Linked DNA regions of Homo sapiens. The protein of the gene in region 3 interacts with the protein of the main gene of each other region in a biochemical or structural test. Each region holds a gene or a part of one and is shown on either strand. Other genes may lie near its edges.

Region 1 (3,650 bases), on a different chromosome or scaffold from region 3:
GCTGGGCCGGGGGAAGACAGGCCAGGGTAGACAGGCCCCAGGGACAGAGGCCAGGCAGGTCAGTGCCCACCAGCCCTGGCAGAGCCCTGCTCCTCACAGCTCCTCAGAGTGGAACAACGTGGACCCATATGAACGGGACCAGCTCCGGGTCAAGATGGAGGACGGGGAGTTCTGGTGAGCGCCCCCTCCCCTTCTACCCCACCTCTCCACCCCTACACATCAGCTCTGTGCCCTGACGGGCTGTGCCTCACCTGTGTACCTCCCACCTCAGGATGTCATTCCGAGACTTCATGCGGGAGTTCACCCGCCTGGAGATCTGCAACCTCACACCCGACGCCCTCAAGAGCCGGACCATCCGCAAATGGAACACCACACTCTACGAAGGCACCTGGCGGCGGGGGAGCACCGCGGGGGGCTGCCGAAACTACCCAGGTGCACAGGGGCGGGCTCTGGGTCTTGCTGCTTCCTGGCTTAGGGGCTCCAGAAGGCACGTCATCTTACTGAGCCTCCGTTTCCTCACTTGCAAGATATAGGCTGATCTCTTGAATTTGCTTTGAGGAGTAAAATATTAAATGTCCTAGTAAATTTTAAAGAGGCATGCTTGACTCACCGTCTTGGGGCCTGAGCCCAGGGTGCTCATGAGGGGCAAAGATCTTGTGGCCATCCAGCCACCTGCCTGTCACTCCTTTCCTGGGCCCTTCCCTCCTGCCTTCGCTTTTTTTTTTCTGAGACAGAGTCTCACTCTGTTGCCCAGGCTGGAGTGCAGTAGCGTGGCCTTGGCTGACTACAACCTCCATCTCCCGGATTCAAGCAATTCTCCTGCCTTAGCCTCCCGAGTAGCTGGGATTACAGGCACCTACCATACCCAGCTAATTTTTGTATTTTTAGTAGAGGCAGGGTTTCTCCATGTTGGCCAGGCTGGTCTCGATCTCCTGACCTCAGGTGATCCGACCACCTTGGCCTCCCAAAGTGCTGGGATTACAGGCGTGCGCCACTGTGCCAGGTCCCTTCTTGCCTTCTCTTGCCACCTTTCCCTGGGCTTCTAGATCCATGTGGCTGATGTGGGCCACAGCCTGGCCTCTCAGTTCCTTGTCACTCTCACTGCAGCACGCTTTTTCTCTACCTTAGCTCAGCCCCCACCATGAGGGCACCAGAGCTGCCTTGTCTTGCAAACACCCGCTCTCTGACCTCCACCTTCGACTCTTTCCACTCCCTTAGTCTTCAACCCTTCGACCAAGCCAGTCCGTTGAACCCATCACTTGCGTACCATCCTGCCTCTCCCATCTTGCCTTCTCTCCTTACCTAGGTTAGAGCTATCATTTTAATCTTGTTCCTACAAACACTTTCAGTTCCCTGGCCCCTGTCTCCCATCATCTGGCACAAAACCCATCTCCACTGGCTTGGGAACCATTGAGTGTGGCAGGAGAGAAATCACATAACCGATGCCATATTTTCCCTGTAAATTCTTAGCCACAAATCTCAAATGAGCATTTTCCATAATCCCCAGCAATTCCACTACTGGTTAGTAACATTTCCACTCTCACCTCGATATCTCCCCACTGTTACTCTCACCTTCGGGCCTGGCCTTGCACTTCACTGAAAAGATAGACTTCATCCTGCAGGACACCTTGTGTTCCCACCTCCAAATCCCCCAGCCTTCTGCACCTGTGCCTGTGTCCTCATCGCCTCCCCACCTGCGACAGTGGCAGAACAGTCCCTGTTCATGGGGACCCCCACGTCTGCTCCAGATCCCATTCTCCCTCACCTCTGAAAGCATTTGCTCCTTCATCTGTCACCTCTCTCTCCAGTGTCATTACGGAGAGTCCTCTGTCTTAACACAAAGCAACCCTCTCGACCCCACTTCCCTGTTCATTTCTCCGCCCTCCTTCAAAGCACAATTTATCAGGAATTACCATACTCCCTATTTCCTTTCTCACTTCTGCTTCATTGCTTAACCCTTCCCAGTCCAGCTTCATCCCTACCATGCTGCTAAAACCACCCTCTCAAAGGTCACTTAAGCTTTGGCCTTGCCAGATCCGCCGCTGCTCTGTCCTCCTGTGCTGCATCCTCAGCACGGCTCCCTGCCCTCTGTTTTGAAGCATTCTTCTCCCTTGTAGGGATCCAATTTCAGTCTTTCCCCAAATAGATAACCACCGTTCCCTGTACCATTTATTGAGAAATACATCATCTCGTCTCTCCCCAGCAGCACTAGCGCCCTCAAGTAGTCCTGAGGTATGTGTTGGTCTGTTTCTGGACTCACCATTCTGTCCCTGGGTCTATCCCTCTGCCGATAACACATTGAATCCATTACTACAGATGTGTAAGTCCTGCTGTTGGACAGGGCAAATTCCTTCTTCAAGAGTCTCTTAGCTGTTTTTTTTGTTGTTGGTTTTTTTTGTTTTTGTTTTTGTTTTTTGAGACGGAGTCTTGCTCTGTTGCCCAGGCTGGAGTGCAGTGGCGCGATCTCGGCTCACTGCAACCTCTGCCTCCTGGGTTCAGATGATGCTTCTGCCTCAACCTCCTGAGTAGCTGTGATTACAGGTGCCCGCCACCACATCCAGCTAATGTTTGTATTTTTAGTAGAGACGGGGTTTCACCATGTTGGCCAGGCTGGTTTCAAACTCAAGTGATCCACCTGGCTTAGCCTCCCAAATTGCTGGGATTACAGGCGTGAGCCACTGCATCTGTCTTAGCTGTTCTTGACCTCTGTTTTTCCAAATGAATTTTAGAATCAGTTTACCAAGTCTTTTGAAAAACCATTTTGAGATTTTAATTTGGAATTACATGAAACCTATAGACCAATTTGGGGAGACTTGACATTTTTATAATTTTAAGTCTTATCCAAGGATATGGTGTATCTCTTCATTTATTTTGGCCTTTAATGTCTTTCAATAGAATGTTGTATTTTTTATCATAAAGAATTTATACATCTCTTGAGATTTAATGCTAGGTACACTATAATTTTGTTTCTATTATAAATAGTATGTTCTTTAAAATTACATCTCCCAAGTGATCTTGTTGCTCATACGATAACATGCATTTGACCTTTTAGATGTAGTTTTTATATCCAGCAAATTTTTTAAAACTAATTAATCTTACTGATTCATCTGTATGTATTTTTTGGCACGATCTTAGCTCACTACAACTTCTGCTTCCCTGGTTCAAGTGATTCTCGTGCCTCAGCTTCCCGAGTAGCTGGGATTACAGGCGTGCGGCACCACACCTGGCTAATTTTTGTATTTTTATTAGAGACAGGGTTTCACCATGTTGGCCAGGGTGGTCTCGAACTCCTGACCTCAGGTGATCTGCCTGCCTTGGCCTCCCAAAGTGCTGGGATTACAGTGAGCCACTGCGTCCAGCCCTTTTTGGTTTTCTAATTAGGAATATAGCATCTGCAAATAATGACAGATTGTTTCTTCTTTTCTAATTCTTACAACTTTTGTTACTTTTTCTTGTCTAATATGCTGCCTAGAACTGTAGAGCTTCCTGCTCTTGTTCCTCCCTTTTTTTTATTCTTATTTTTAGGAGCAACCCTATTAACTAAGCCTCACTCTTAAAGGGGAAGTTTTCACCACTAAGTACCTTTCTAATCTAGGTTTTTTGTGGATACCTTTTATCAGACTAATGAAGTTTAATATTGTTAAATACTT
Region 2 (3,516 bases), on a different chromosome or scaffold from region 3:
CCCCCTAATCTTAGCCTCATCTTCCCATTCATTTCCAGAATAGCTATTGAGCCTTTTGATGGTTCTGTCACATAAGTCTGGTTGTTTCTCAATTTTCCACACTGCAGGCTTAGGAGTCAGCTTTTCCAGACTTGTTCATTCAGTTACCAATCAGCTATCACTTTTCAGCTTCAAGTTTTTGTTGCTCTTGTCTCTTCTTCCAATCTCTTTAACTCCACTGGTTGATTCCGTCTGGAAATATCTCTTTATTTTCTTTTTAGAGGCTTACATGAGGGAATGAAGGTATGTACACTCTCCTCTCTTTAACTGGAAGTCCAGGAGTAGTTCTTGGCTTTAAAAGAACTAACACTTCACTGTATCTCACTTAGTTTGAAACATGTGAACCACACATCACTCATAGAAAACCAGATTTTCTCCAAAAGAAGACTTTCAAGTTGATGGAAACCCATTTTGTTTTTGCTTTTTTAAAAAATAAAATGAGTGTGAGGCTTCAGCCACCTCAGATACCTTTGACTTTGTTCCTCTAAATTACCCAGACGGTGCCAGATAAGCATAGTTCTGTCCCTCTCAGCCTCCCATTCTTTTAAATTAGAGACTTCTGAGTCTGTTTCCTTTAGTCTTTTAATGTTAGCCTTTTAATATTTTCCAATAAGTGCTTTCAACTCAGCAATATACATATCATGCTTTCCTCATTATTATTGATCCATCAATAAATATACAAAAACCAGAGGAAGGGTGTGCTCTGAAAAGTCAAAGTAACAATAACAGTGGTCATTGTACAGCACAAGAATGAACAATGGGCTATTCTTTGAAAACTCAAAACAAATGATTTACACAAAGACATATCTATAACATAAAGGTGAATGGACCATGTTATTCTTATTCTTAAGTACATTTTGCTTTTCCAGATAAGTCAAATGTTTCCTCTCTCCTACTCCTCTGATATAACAGTATTGAATGAATGTTGGCTACAAAATCAATTCTTGGTGTTGTTATGAATCTCAATATAAAACTTTTGGAAAGGTTCTGCTAGAAAAGCCAATTCTACCAGGCTTGAAATATGGATTCGAAGATGTCTTTTGTCTCTTTTGATTTTTCACTCAGAGCTAATTTTAAGGGAAGTCTTCAGGAGACACAAAAGATTTACAATTGCAAGAAAAATTACATCTTTAGCTCTTAGGTTGCTTTGCAAAATAATTAAATGTTGGCCTTTTACTTTTATAAAGACCCAGTTTAAATGACTTAGCCCAGGTCACCTGAAAATCATTGGTAAAAATGACGTGTAGTCAAGCTGTGCTTCCAGAGTTACGCCCTTGAGATCAAGGGAGTGAGAATACATCTTATTCCATAAACTTCAGGCAATGTTGCAAGGGTTTGTGAAGACTTGGCCAGCTCTCCGTTGACAATGGCCAAGGAATAGAAGCTCTAGACCTCCCTTATTTCTATCGTGAAAACAGAGGTATATCCAAGTGAGGGACTACAACAGTAATAAAGGGAAAAAAGTATTTAATTCCAAAATAAAATTGAAAATAACCTCCTGTCTCAGCCTCTTTTTGGGAATATCTAGAAGGAGTGGAAAACCATCTCTGGCTATGAGACTTGTATCACTACCCCTTTCTCCCTGGGGCGACAGGTAGAGGCTGTTGTAACCATTTTGAACCTTGTCCTGGAGTGGCTTGTTGCTTTTCAGTTAAAGAGCTTGAGTGAGCCTGTCTGGGCCTCTGGCAGACCCAGGAAATCTCTGGGAAAACAAGAGGCACTTGAACACTAGTGGCAGTAACAACACATAGTGGCCTAATGTCCAGTTTCTTTCAAGTTGAAAAGAAAATAAAAAGAAATCCAGACCACTGAAAATGGATCTGGCCAATGATGTTCACAGAAGAGAAAGGAAGTTTTTCAAGATTGTGGGGTGAAGTGGAGGGAGAGAGGGAGGGGAGAGGGTAGACAGGGAGGAGCAGAGGCTGGGAATAGTGCAGAAAGTTGACATCTCTCCTTTAAAGATATTCTACAGATCAACTCTGTCTAAGCCCAGCCCTGATTTAGTCAGGAGCTTTTCTTCTTCTTTCTGCTTTGTGGTCTGAGAAGCATTGCCTGTTAAGCACATAAGTTTAGGTAACAAATGACTTTTAGTAGGAGCCTCAGAAAGGAGATACCATTTAACAGGAGCCGTTGCTTTATAGATGCAATGGCTTCTATGACAAGCAGCCTTTGGAAGTTCTAGGACCAATCGGACACCCTGACTGATGAATAAATGCCACAAAGGACTTGCCAAGTGGGAGAAAATATGAGGTTAGAGGATAAAGCCAGTACTCTCTTGTTTGGTCATAAACTTGCCTATCTGGTGATAAGATTCCAATGATGGGAATCCCTTTAACCTTTTGAGGGACTCCCCAGGCACTTAACTCATCCTAAATAGCAACTGCATCAAGAACAGACACTGGTGTGTTTAAGTTTACAAATACAGCCATAAAAATGTCAAACAGGATCTACATGGCATCATCCTTCCCCTTTGCCAATCTCTTTCATTTCCATTGGCTTCTTCTCTTATTGTAAGACATCAAAAGGCACTTCCATATTGTTTTTGGAAATCACTAATAGGGCCAGCCTCTATGAAATAGGGCCCCAGGGATAACAGGTCATGCAAACTTAATGTGACTTTGCAAAGCCTTTCACAGGAGAGAACAGGTGGCCATTAAACCATAAAAGAGGCTGAAGCTCCTCAGCTTCCAACTCTGATTCCAGGACAGGATGGAAAACCTTTGGACAGTGTCAAAAAAAAAAAACAAAAAACAAAAAACAAAAACAGTGCTGCCCTCCTTGGTCTTCCATGAGATTTGGCTGAGTGGGTCTGAGTGGGAACTCAGGGTCTCTGAGATGAAGACTTAGAAGAGTCTCCTTACCATTCTCAGCTCTTCCTGATACATTGTAGGGACCCAGACAGTGCTGGTTTAGAAACTGAAGAATCACAGCACAAAAGGTGAAGATCGAAGAAGTACAGATATTTATTATGAATCAGTTTAAACCCTTTTGTGCCTCTGACAAAGTAACTTTAAAAAATTATACTGATCAAAGGACTGATCCAGGGTTTAATATTTCAAAAACACAGATAAATAGTTTACTACAGATAAATAGCTTCACCCTTTGGGTGTCTCCCAGAAGCATCTGAAAAATTTCTAGAGGGGGTCTGTTGAAGATGTGTAACTAGTACACCCCAACCCCCAACCTCAGTGGAAAGCAATGCCCAGGGATTAGGCTATGGAAGGGCAAAATGGACCCATTCAAATTTCCTCCCAGGGACCAGGCCCTATTAACCCTGGGAAATGTCCTTAGCTGGTGGGGGAAAGGTTGGCGATCAGGAATACATATGTGTAGTTTTTGTTAGAAGCCATCCATAGCACACCCGAGGGATGAAAGGCCTCCAAGTGGGAACTGGAACGATCAAATTCTTGCTGATTATTAATTGGGCCCTAATTTCAGAAAGCAATGCTGTTTTTACAAATTGGACCTGACTTTAAA
Region 3 (3,650 bases):
GGTGAGCCTACATTTACGTGAAGGAAAGGGTTAAAAAGGCAACTGAGATGCTTCCTGGTAGTAAATTTAACAGTACAGCTGTGATTAAAAACTAAGCCGGATCAGAAGATGGGGGTGAGATTCCTTTAGGCAGGTTGGGCAGGAGCCACACTGAGGAGGCAGCATTTGCCTTGAGTGGGCACTGCTGGTTTGAGGAGGTGGAGTTCTGTCACCCCCACAGCACCCCAGGGCTGCTCGAGGCACTGCCCCACCTCAGTCTGTAAACTTTGGGCAGAAGAAGTTCAAGTTTTCGACATCGAACTTTCTTGTAAAAAAGAAGAGGCCCAAAGTTTGAGGCGGTGGGATTCCTTATCTTGTGTTGACTTTCACGGGTCATCTTCACCCCAGGCGGTTTCTGCTGTGAACTCACAAATGAGTCTTTGTCCAGTTCTCACCCAACAACTGGCGTCTCCTTTTTAAAAGCCAGCTTCTCTTCCCTGCCAAGGTGCATACAGCAGTTTGGGGCCACACTTTGGCTCTTTAGATGGGACCTTGTATACAGCTGACACGGCCTGCCCAGGTGACACTATGAGGGGCTGAGGCGGCTGCCTTTTCCCTTTCAAAAGGGCGTTTTGTTCCTGTGGCCTTGTGGAAAAGGCAGAAGGCTCTGAGGCATCTGAAATTTGGAGAAAGTAAGCAGCGTTTCCGCTCTGACTCCTCGGACGCTTCCCCCACGTGACCTTCCCAGGAGCCCCGCTGCCTTTTTGCCTCCCGCGGCTGCCTCCTGCCATCTCTGCGGCCAGATGAGCCTTGGGATTGGCCTCTTGTGGGAGAGTTTCCTGGCATCCTGGGGACTTGAAAAGGGGCTCTTTTACCTTCTCTCCTTCTGTATTTGTAGGGTCTTGGGTTTATTTTTCTTGAACTTTCCTTGTGCCTGGTTTGCATTTTTACCTTGCTGGTCCTCGGCCAGTTTAAAAACCCTGCTCCAGGTCTTGTCGTGTTGTGGTTCTGCATCAGGAAGCTGCATCCTGCATCAGGTTAGGGACTTGGATTTAGAAACATTTCAGTATGAGTCTTTGTTTTAACTTGAAGTGAGAAACCGGCTTCCTTCAAAGGCACTGGGAGAGATTTCCTGCCAGGCACCATCCTCCCTCACCCACTGGCAGTGGACTCCCCAAATTCTGGTTCCCGTTGCTGGCAGGACCTGTCTTCTGCAGGGAAAGGGAGAGAGGGAGACATTGTTATGTTAACCATTGAGGTTTTTCATTGATCCCCCCACCCATGCACCCCCACAACCCCATAAAGGGGAGTTGGTGCTAATCAGCGTTTTCTGAGTCAGGGCCTATTTGGTAGAGTCCTCCAAAGCTGTAATGCAGGATTGTTTCCTCTTGTGTAATAAGGGATAGGTGGGTCATAAAAATGCCGATTGCTCCCAGCTCCACAGACTCCTCCCTGGGAAACCCAATGACTTAACAGCAAGGGTGTGAAACCCCAAAGACAGCCCCACCCAGGAAGTTCATGGGCTCTCAGGGCTTGGCATCACCTCTCACCCTAGGATTTCTGGAACAGATGAAAAGACTGAAGCTAAATAGATTCTTCTCGGATGTGTTGATGAGCCCGCTCAGCCGGTTCCTCGTTAGGTCTCAGAAGTTGCTGTGGGATATATCGCACTGTTTTTTTGTTTTAGCCACCCTGTCCCTCTGTTCCAAATGGTCAGAAGCTGGATGCTGGGGGCCCTGAGGTTAAGAGGAAGCCAACAGAGTCACTGAAAAATAACTTTTCATGGGAGTTTCTAAACCATATTCTTCTGTCTTGTAAGCTAATCACAGCAGTAGCAAGGAGTTGGGACCAAGATTGTCAGCTGTGTCCCAAATGTTTCCAGTCATGGTCACGAGTTTCCCGAAGGCTGTGATTCTGCCTTGTTTTCCAGGAGGCTCCTCTGGTTGTGGTCTTGCAAGGCACTAGCAATTGGAGTGACCGCTGTGTGTGTCAGCCAGCTCTTCCTGCGCCGAGCACCTCCTGAACGTCACCGATAAGGCGGGGACGCCAGCATCTAATGGGACTGCTGGGAGGATTGAGTCCCATATCTGAAGTCCCTTGAGATACCGGCATCCCTGCCTTATGGTTGAAGGCACTGAGCCTGGTGAAGGGATGTGCTCAAGGCTGTGGAGCTCGCACGTGGCTGTCTGTGCTGCACGAGCTGGCAGTGCCTGGCAGGTACTGCACACCTCAAATACCCTGGGAAGATAAGAGATGAGTGAATGTGTGGCCCCTGCCCTTGGGAGCTGATGGCCTCATAGGAGTGAGATGCTGAAAGGAGTCACTGGAGTGAAGTGACAGTGCCACTGCGGCGAGTACCTGTAGCTGGTGTGGCAGGAGCAGGGCTGGATAGCTTTGAGGAGAGAGAACCGAGTGCACAGCGGAGGCTGGGCCCAGAGCTGGAAGGTCTCTGTGTGGGTTGGGCCCAGGCCCTGGAGCTCATCCTGGAGCTCCCAGGCTGGCAGTGATGGGTCGGGGTGGTGACCCAGTCAGTGTAGCAATAACAGTGTGGGAGGGGAGGCTGTGGCAGAGGAGACAGGAAGCCCAAATAGCAGCAGAGGCAGTCCAGGCAAGCATCGGGGATGGGGAGCAGCAGTGAGGCTGGAGAGGACATCATGAAAGGTGGCTACCTGGAAGAGCAGGCAGCTCTGAGACTTGAAAGGTTTCCCAAGGCTGAGAGTTCTCACCTTGGAAAAGCTTTGCAGTTAACGTGCAGTGGCATTTCAGTGTGCATGCAGGATGTCCCTACCCACACACAACTGCACACACACGCGGCACCTGCCCTTCCTCCACCCGTCCCAGAGAATGCACTTTCCCAGTGCTACATACCCACACATAACCGCACACACACGCGGCACGTGCCCTTCCTCCATCTGTCCTGGAGAATGCACATTCCTAGTGCCGAGATGCTGCCATCCCTGTTCTGCTACATTTGTTCTTTTAGAAAAGTTCTGGACCTTTGTGAAGGATGGTTTGGAGAAGAAAACCAAACGAAGGAGCTTGAGTCCAGGTGGCCCTGTTCTGTTTTGTAGGACTTTGTGTTTTATGCCCCACGTCTGAGAATCAACAAGCGGATCCTGCAGCTCTGCATGGGCAACCATGAGTTGTATATGCGCCGCAGGAAGCCTGACACCATCGAGGTGCAGCAGATGAAGGCCCAGGCCCGGGAGGAGAAGCATCAGAAGCAGCTGGAGCGGTGAGCGCGTGAGGCCAGAGTGGGGGGGGCCTGTGTTCTCCCAACTCAGCCACTGGCAGCCAGTGCCTGTCAGGTGACTGTGGAGCTGATGGGGAGAGTGTGGTGGAATGGAACCCAGTCACCACGCTGGGATCTTCGAGGCCTTTGTCTCTGGGCGGTTGCTGTGGTGCTGAGCCTGTTGTCAGCCCTGGAGCGGCTGCTCCGTCAGGCAGCTCAGGCTGGCAGCAGGCTAGGGTGGCCCTCAGGATACCAAGTCCATCCTGGAGCTTCAAGTACCCGTGAAGTGTGTTGACCCCTCACTTTCCTGCCAGAGTCTAAATCTCCCTGTGCCTCTTTTTCCCTGCACCAGGCAACAGCTGGAAACAGAGAAGAAAAGGAGAGAAACCGTGGAGAGAGAGAAAGAGCAGATGATGCGCGAGAAGGAGGAGTTGATGCT

What was found.
Region 1: of the proteins of EZR (region 3) and CAPN1, one has a biochemical effect on the other in vitro, tested with the Homo sapiens proteins (one study listed by IntAct).
Region 2: the proteins of EZR (region 3) and CD44 form a complex in vitro, tested with the Homo sapiens proteins (one study listed by BioGRID).

Annotation. Positions count from the first base shown.
Region 1 is NC_000011.10:65,188,315-65,191,964, forward strand, and holds part of CAPN1 (calpain-1 catalytic subunit), read left to right. Parts: intron 1-99; coding exon 100-174; intron 175-271; coding exon 272-432; intron 433-3,650. UniProt on the Homo sapiens protein: Calcium-regulated non-lysosomal thiol-protease which catalyzes limited proteolysis of substrates involved in cytoskeletal remodeling and signal transduction. Proteolytically cleaves CTBP1 at 'Asn-375', 'Gly-387' and 'His-409'.
Region 2 is NC_000011.10:35,229,490-35,233,005, reverse strand, and holds the end of CD44 (CD44 antigen isoform 1 precursor), read right to left. Parts: 3' UTR 604-3,516; downstream 1-603. UniProt on the Homo sapiens protein: Cell-surface receptor that plays a role in cell-cell interactions, cell adhesion and migration, helping them to sense and respond to changes in the tissue microenvironment.
Region 3 is NC_000006.12:158,770,808-158,774,457, reverse strand, and holds part of EZR (ezrin), read left to right. Parts: intron 1-3,050; coding exon 3,051-3,214; intron 3,215-3,563; coding exon 3,564-3,650. UniProt on the Homo sapiens protein: Probably involved in connections of major cytoskeletal structures to the plasma membrane. In epithelial cells, required for the formation of microvilli and membrane ruffles on the apical pole. Along with PLEKHG6, required for normal macropinocytosis.